Homo sapiens: one gene and its partner. The protein of the gene in region 2 interacts with the protein of the main gene of each other region in a pairwise test. Each region holds a gene or a part of one and is shown on either strand. Other genes may lie near its edges.

What was found.
Region 1: the proteins of USP40 (region 2) and LRP2 interact in a two-hybrid assay, tested with the Homo sapiens proteins (one study listed by BioGRID).

Annotation. Positions count from the first base shown.
Region 1 is NC_000002.12:169,128,322-169,132,148, forward strand, and holds part of LRP2 (low-density lipoprotein receptor-related protein 2 precursor), read right to left. Parts: intron 764-3,827; coding exon 692-763; intron 510-691; coding exon 342-509; 3' UTR 1-341. UniProt on the Homo sapiens protein: Multiligand endocytic receptor. Acts together with CUBN to mediate endocytosis of high-density lipoproteins. Mediates receptor-mediated uptake of polybasic drugs such as aprotinin, aminoglycosides and polymyxin B.
Region 2 is NC_000002.12:233,490,278-233,494,104, forward strand, and holds part of USP40 (ubiquitin carboxyl-terminal hydrolase 40), read right to left. Parts: intron 3,275-3,827; coding exon 3,148-3,274; intron 985-3,147; coding exon 890-984; intron 795-889; coding exon of another isoform or gene 755-794; intron 1-754. UniProt on the Homo sapiens protein: May be catalytically inactive.

The DNA of each region.
Region 1 (3,827 bases), about 64 Mb from region 2:
TCATTTACTATAATGATCACCAACCAAATCAGCAGACATCTTTATTAGCAAATTCAGTAACAGGATAATCTTTCCAAAATTTACAAATATACAATATATTTATAGTATTACCTTCAGACAACTTCAGTGCAAAGATATACATATAGTACATTGTGATAATTATTTGTAAAAATATGAGACGGCATAAGTAAAAAAAGACACACAGGATACCTCCAACTATAGGCAAACAGGGAAAAATATATTTTTTTCATAAAGTACTGAATGTTAACTTTTTTCATCTGTTTGTAAAAAATATATGTGCAAAAGTGTGTTTCTAATTATTCCCTAAATAGCTGGTATAGCTATACTTCAGAGTCTTCTTTAACAAGATTTGCGGTGTCTTTAAAAGTGTCTTCTGTTGCAGAATAGGTTGGAGTTGGGTCTCTTCTCGAAGGAGGCTTAGGCTTAGCAGGGAGCGAAGGTGATGGAGGTGGTGTCGCAGCAACACTTTCCTTTTGCTCGTTCTCCATCTAAGAATACAATGTAACAGGAATCAGCCATTTATTCCCCCAAGGTCACCATACACGGTTTTTCATAAAGAAGACTATTTGTGGCCACTCTGCTCAGAATAATCTAAGTGTGTGTCCAATTTAACCAAGCAAATAATTTCTAAGAAAAAATGTCTGTGCTAAGAAAAATTGTTAAAAATTACCTGTGCATAGATTGGATTTTCAAAGTTGGTAGTTTGTTTAGATTTTCGTTTGAAGAGATTCCATTTTGTCACCTAAATGAAAAGGGGAAAACAAAAACCTCTCAGTAATGGAATTATTTTGTGGGTTTCTTTTCCTCCTGTCTCAGTTTTAAAATTTCTTCTTACTGAAGGGTAAAGCAATTTGGGACCTGGGACCATGTGATTCAGCCCATATGGTAAATTGTTCAATTCCTCCTATGGTCCCTGAACAGTAACTGAAACTCTGGGCTCTTTTAATCGAATGGTTTTAAACACTTCTTTGACTTCAAATTTATATATTATAGAATTTGTGCCATAGTATCTACAAGCAAATCACCTGGTTACCTCAGTACAGAGAGAACACATAAAACAGACATGCACAAGATGCATCTGGAGAAAAAGAGATTTCTGGGGCTGCCTGAAAATTGGGTGGAGATGGCAAAGCCAAACTGTAACTCTTATTCCCTAAAGTAACATTCTTTGGTCAACTCAAGAGTATCCCTTCTCCCTTCATCATTCCCTCCTGTGTCACAATAATAATAACAAAAACATCTAACATTTATTGAGTGCTTACTATGTGTCAGGAACTATTCTAAGAGTTTTACAAGTTTCTGATTTTTTTTAACAAACCCCAGAGGTAGGTACACTTATTATCCTATACTTGCTGAGTCACAGCAAGATTATACAACTAACTTGCAGGTAGAAGGGCAGGTAATGATTACTCAGGGGACCCAGAGGCCCATAAACTGGAGAACCCAAAGATAATCACCCTGGACCATGGTGCGTGGCCCACGCTTTACTGAAAAGTTGCCTGTCATGCTGACTGCCAGATAAAAACCTGGTGGGAGACAAGGGAACAGACAGCCTACTCTCAACAGGAGCTGAGGGAGCCCACAGGTTTTATGGGGTGTCTCTTACTCTGTGACAGCAGGGGACCAGCCTGTGGAGGAGTGGGGAACACAGGGCTACAGAAGTAGAAGAGGTCTTCACTTTAACCCACATTCAAGTGAGAACCTGCTTTGTACATAGTGCCCCCAAGGGGAACATGAAGACATTCAGGTCAGAGCCCTGCCTCTGGGCGCTTACAGTTAAGTGGGGCGGGCCAAAGTCTCTTAGATGTCATTGCTTCAAAATGAAATGGCTAACTTGAAGTTAAGCAATTACTAACAAGAGGAAAGGGACGGTGACTTTCATTTTTGTCTCCTTGGGGGATCCTATGCATATCAATGTAACTTTTGGAAAATGATAGAACTGAATCTTTTTTTTTTTTTTTTTGAGATGAAGTCTCACTCTGTCGCCTAGGCTGGAGTGCAGTGTCACAGTCTCGGCCCACTACAACCTCTGCCTCCCGGGTTCAAGCAATCCTCCCACCTCAGCCTCCTGAATAGCTGGGACTACAGGCATATGCCACCACACTCAGCTAATTTTTGCATTTTTAGTAGAGATGGGGTTTCACTATGTTGGCCAGGTTGGTCTTGAACTCCTGATGTCATGATCCACCCACCTCGGCCTCCCAAAGAGCTGGGATTACAGGTGTGAGCCACCGTGCCCAGCCCATGTTTTTAATTGTTAGTCTTTCAACATATTTATGGATGAAAGATACATTTGTGGGACTCTGGCATATTCAAATCAACCTAGGTGATCTCACCCAAGCGCCTCTACTGCTTTTAAAGCATGCTGGCTGTTAACTCAGTGCCCAGGAGGGAAGAAATACAGTGAGATCCCTGGACATAACATGGAAGACACATTTTAGAGGGTCTCAGCCTCACTAATGTAAAAAAGTAAGAGGAGGAACCAAGGTATTACAAAAGGGAAGAGAAAGAAAGGACTACAATTGGTGAAGATCTGCTCTCCTTTGAAAGAGACTGTCAGTTTACATTTTGTTTCTGATAACAGACATGCAGATCAGAGGTTACAGCCTCCCCACCACAGTCCCCTTCCTGCACCAGCTGGGGAAAATGTCTATTTAGTGAAGAAGATCACTAGACTAGAGATGGACTGAGAAAAAATGTTGAAAATATAAAATAAATCTGGCACTAGCTTGGGGTTGACTCAGGCTTGGAGGACCAAATATATGACATTCAAGCATCCGTGTGTCTGTGGAAAATTAATCTTCAAAATCCATTTTTAATATAGCTTAAAGAAAAAATGTTTAGTCCCTTGAAAAATCTGAAACTGAAAATTCCTTTCTAGACAATATTTATGTATGTCTGTGAGTGTATGAGTGTGTGTGTGTGTGTGTGTGTGTGTGTGTGTGTGACATGAGAAGAAGAAATAAGGGAATTTGAGAAGGTGTACAGAAGCCTTGATATAGACTCTTCTCAGCATCAATTTAGGTCAAATTTTATTTTGATTTAAATCAGCAGAACAGAAACCAATGTTTAAGGTGATAATGAGACTGCCAAGTTACCAAGATATCAATGTTTATAGACTATGAAATTTGAGAAATAAAGATTGTATAAAATGGTAAAATTTCCAACTACTCTTAGACTTTCATTTCTTTACATTACTTCACAAAATTGGTCATAGAATCTTAGAACAGAGACATTCCAGATCCTAGCGGTTCTCAACCAGGAGTGAGTGCACATGTGTTGGGGAGGGGAGGTGATTTCTGGGGTCACACTGAATTAGGGGAGACACTACTGGAATTTAGTGGACAGGGACCAGAAATACTGAAATTCCCTGAGTGCATAGGACAGTTTTGTAGCACAAAGAACTGTCCCACTCAATATGCCAATAGCGCCCCCAGTGAGAAATATTATTGAGGACTCTAGCCCCAGAAGTAAAACAGTTTGTCCAGATTCAAACAGCTATATCTGGTATAGCTGCAAATGCATTCATTAAAACTAATGATATACATTAATACAGAGTTTAATATCAAATATATTTATTGAATTTCTTCCTGCAGACCAAATAGTGTACCAATTGCAAAGGACCTGCAGGCATGTTTAAGAAGCTCCATCTAGTGGCATTTTTTTCTTTCAATCTCCAGTATTAAACACCATCCCTGACACATCGAGGGGAATAACGTTAGTTAGATGATTGGTTGGCCAATAATGAATAGATGGATGATGAATGGAAAAATTAGTGCCATCTAGTGGTAAAGATCTGTAATAGC
Region 2 (3,827 bases):
CTCAGCCTCCGAGTAGCTGGGATTACAGGTGCCTGCCACCGTGCCAGGTGAATTTTTTTTTTTTTTGTACTTTTAGCAGAGACAGGGTTTTACCATGTTGGCCAGGTTGGTCCCAAACTCCTGACCTCAAGTGATCCGCCTGCCTCAGACTCCTAAAGTGCTGGGATTATAGGCATGAGCCACCACACCCAGCCAACATATGCTTTTTCTTGAGGAAGGGTATTTCATATACTGAGGGCGCACAAAAGCCAAACATCAACAACCACTAGTCATATATAGGCCCCACATTTTCTCCTCTAAGAGAAGAAAGGAATGCTCATTTCAGTCCAACAGTAGGCGGATGCTGCTTCAACACTGCATTGTGCTTAATCCAGCCCTTCCATTTGGATAAAACCCTCCTTCTCTGTGAACGTTAATGCATAAGAAACAACACAATACCTAGAATATCTAGTTTAGCATCCTAACATAAAAGCTGGAGTTCTAACCTCCTGGAAAACTGGTAACACAGCTTTTCATAACAACATTTAACATATGGGTCACAATGGTACACAAACAATGTAAATAAAGGGATAAAGTGAATGCTTTACAAATGTTCCAAGAAACCATGTTTCCCTAAAAAAATAAAAATGAACAAAAGCCGCAAGTCACTGAGGATAGATTGAAACAAAAGCACAGCATGCCTGTCAGAGGAGGGACCAGTGAGGCCACGAGGAGCCGTCTGCACCATGGGCGTGTATTGCCTGCGGGTACTTACCACTGAACATGGCATATGACAAATGCCATATCAGAACAGACTGTAATTGAGGGAAAAGGAGATAGAAGAATATATTAATATCTCACTGGAAGAAGCCACATTACCACTAAGTTATGGTGCAGGAAGAAGTCTGACCTGAGACTTCAGCTCCGCCAGCGTGGCATCTTCTGAGATCTCTATGTCTCCCAAGTAGAGGAGAGAAACTTGCGCAGGCTCGTTCCCAGAAGCACCTTCCAAAGGACAGAGCGGGATGTTTACAAGGAACTTGAAACTTATTTTGTGTTTCTGAAATACATTGCCATGTTTTGATATTGTAAATAGGTTATTAAAATTCCACTCAAGAGCCTCTGCATCCAAGTCTTATGAGGAGGCCCTGTCTGGCAGGTAAGCAGGCAGGGACATGTTGTCGGCAGACTCCCAAGAGGTCTGTGACACTTATGCCCCTACCTTGAATGTACTTTTCCACATTCTCTCCTTCCTCAAAGAGGACTTTTTGGGTAGGATATGCTGGCTGCATTCTGTATGTTAGCTTCCTGTTTCCTCATCATAACACTCATCCCAACCTGTTCCTCGTGTGTGTGTGTGTGTGTGTGTGTGTGTGTGTCTGTCTGTCTGTGTGCAGGCGTTTAATCTGCCTCCTCAAAACAACAGAATTTTCAAGAGGAGGCAGGCCATCTATCTTGTCTCCCCAGTTCCTGGTACAATGGGTGCCACATAGTAAATGCCCAATAAATGTTTATTTATAAGGAAATCTTGACAATAAGAAGGCCTTTCCAAGTTTGTTTAAAAAAAGGGAAAAACACAATGCTTTCTCATCAAAAACAATATAAAAGCTGGCAACTAAATTTAGACTGTCTTCACTTATTTTTGCCTTAACTGTCTTTACTGCTGAGCATGCCACTAATGCATAGCAAGAAATTACAGAGAGATTAGAAGTCAACTAAGTGCATGAGAAGTTCCTCTTGTGTCTTAAGGAAATTACAGGCTGACACTACCGGAAAGATAATTTTAGGAAATTCTAAAGAATGAAATATATAATCACCTGCTACATAATGATTTGGTCAAAGACCACACATGTGATGTGATCCTATAAGATTATAATACTGTATTTTCACTGTACCTTTTTCTGTTTAGATACACAAACACCTGCCACTGTGTTATGATTCGCCTTCAGTATTCAATACAGTAAGCTGCTGTACAGGTCTGTAGCCTATGAGCAAGAGGCTACACCACATAGCCTAGGTGTGTAGGAGGCTCTACCATCTAGGTTTGTGTAAATCACTCTACCGTGTTCACATAATGATGAAATCATCTGACGATGCATTTCTCAAAACATATTCATGTTGTTAAGTGACACATGAGTGCATTTCCCATGTGTTGTGTACAGATGTATTACCAAAAAAAGAACCTTTTATTTACTTTTCACGTAGAAACATACTGATTAAACATGCTTTTACAATCTATATCCAATTCTATATGTAACTAGAATTCTATCACCAAGGCATTTTTAGCATTAGTTAACATGAACTACTGTAACCCAACTAAAAAGTAACTTTATGCCAATTTTATAGCTCATTCAACATTACTCTCTCTATATAATCCTAACTTCAAAGAATAAGGAGATAAGAATTTGACTCATTTATATTAATTTTATTACTGAGGCTGAAAAGATTAAAAAGAAATATAAGTAATATACTTCAAGGCACTAGAAAAACTAAATAAGTAAAGCCTGATAAAAAGAAAAACATAGCTAAAGAGTTGGGCCTATTAAAAATATACTCGCTCCATTTCTTTATAATGAAGTGGAACTCCTCTTTGTACAAGGGCAACAGAACTCACTGATAGTGACTTCTGCCCATCGTGATGTGTGCGGCTGAGTGCTGAGTAAGACAACATGCTTGTACTTGTCTATGTTCCTTCTCAGAAGTCAGTGAGATGATATCAAATGCCCTAGAAGCAGTTCCTGAGGGTTTTGAGGCAGAAAGATTGGAAGACATGTAGGATGTGGACTCCTGGTCTCTGCCCCTGTGGGCTAAAATGACATCATTAGAATTGGATGAAGTCTCAATATTCTGGTACGTGGTGATAAATGGGGCCCCTGTTGCCCTGAGGATCTTGAGAGATGATACATAAAAGTCTTTGGAAAGTGTAATATATTGATATAATAATAAACAACAAGATATATAGTGCTTTACAGAGGTTACAGAGCACGTACAGAAATGGCACAGTGTTATTATTATGTGATGTCTGGAATGACTTATGAAATTAATAGGTCTTGATTTTCAAGATCTTACGTTTTAAAAATAAATATATCAATTGACTCTCAGAGCACAGGCAGTCAATTTACTTCTCTTTATGATGCACTGGCTGCTGAAATCCCATTCTGTTCTCACCTTGGCTGGAAGTGGCTCTCCAAACTCTGCCCCAAGACGAAGTACAGTTGGTCTGGTCCTGATGACTCTCCCAGTGTCCTGAGGGACCCTGAAGCTGGTACCACCAGATGGGCACCTTCAGGAAACCCTGAAGAATGGAGCATGTTTAACTGCTGTGATTACAAAGATTAAGTGAAACTCTACTTTTACTTCCATAGAAAGAAACACCTTGATGACCTAAGATGTTCTTGAACTTATCATTTTTCCTTTTAGATTTATTAACTGTCATAAATTATACTTGTTTTTACAATCAAAAATTTAAAATCATAAAAATCAGACTTTGGGGTGACTGGACTAAATATCCCTTGCTTAAAGGTATCTTAGTAGATAATATAAATGAGAAGCATAAACAAGAACAATGCATTTGCTTGAACACACTATACCAGCGTTTCCAGGCGCTGTCCAAGCACTGCTGGCCCAGGATACCAGTCCCAGCAGTGCAGTTTATCACACAGATGCAAGAGCCCATTGATCTAATGGGTTTCTGATACAAACTAAAGGAAATAAACCCATTGTCTTATACATACCCTGTAATTTCAGTTTTACTTATTTAGCTAGTTCTTCCCACCTCATTTTTTGTTAGTGAAGAATTTTAACAGGTTTATTAAGAGATAAAAGGTGCTATTGTTGCAGCACTTAAT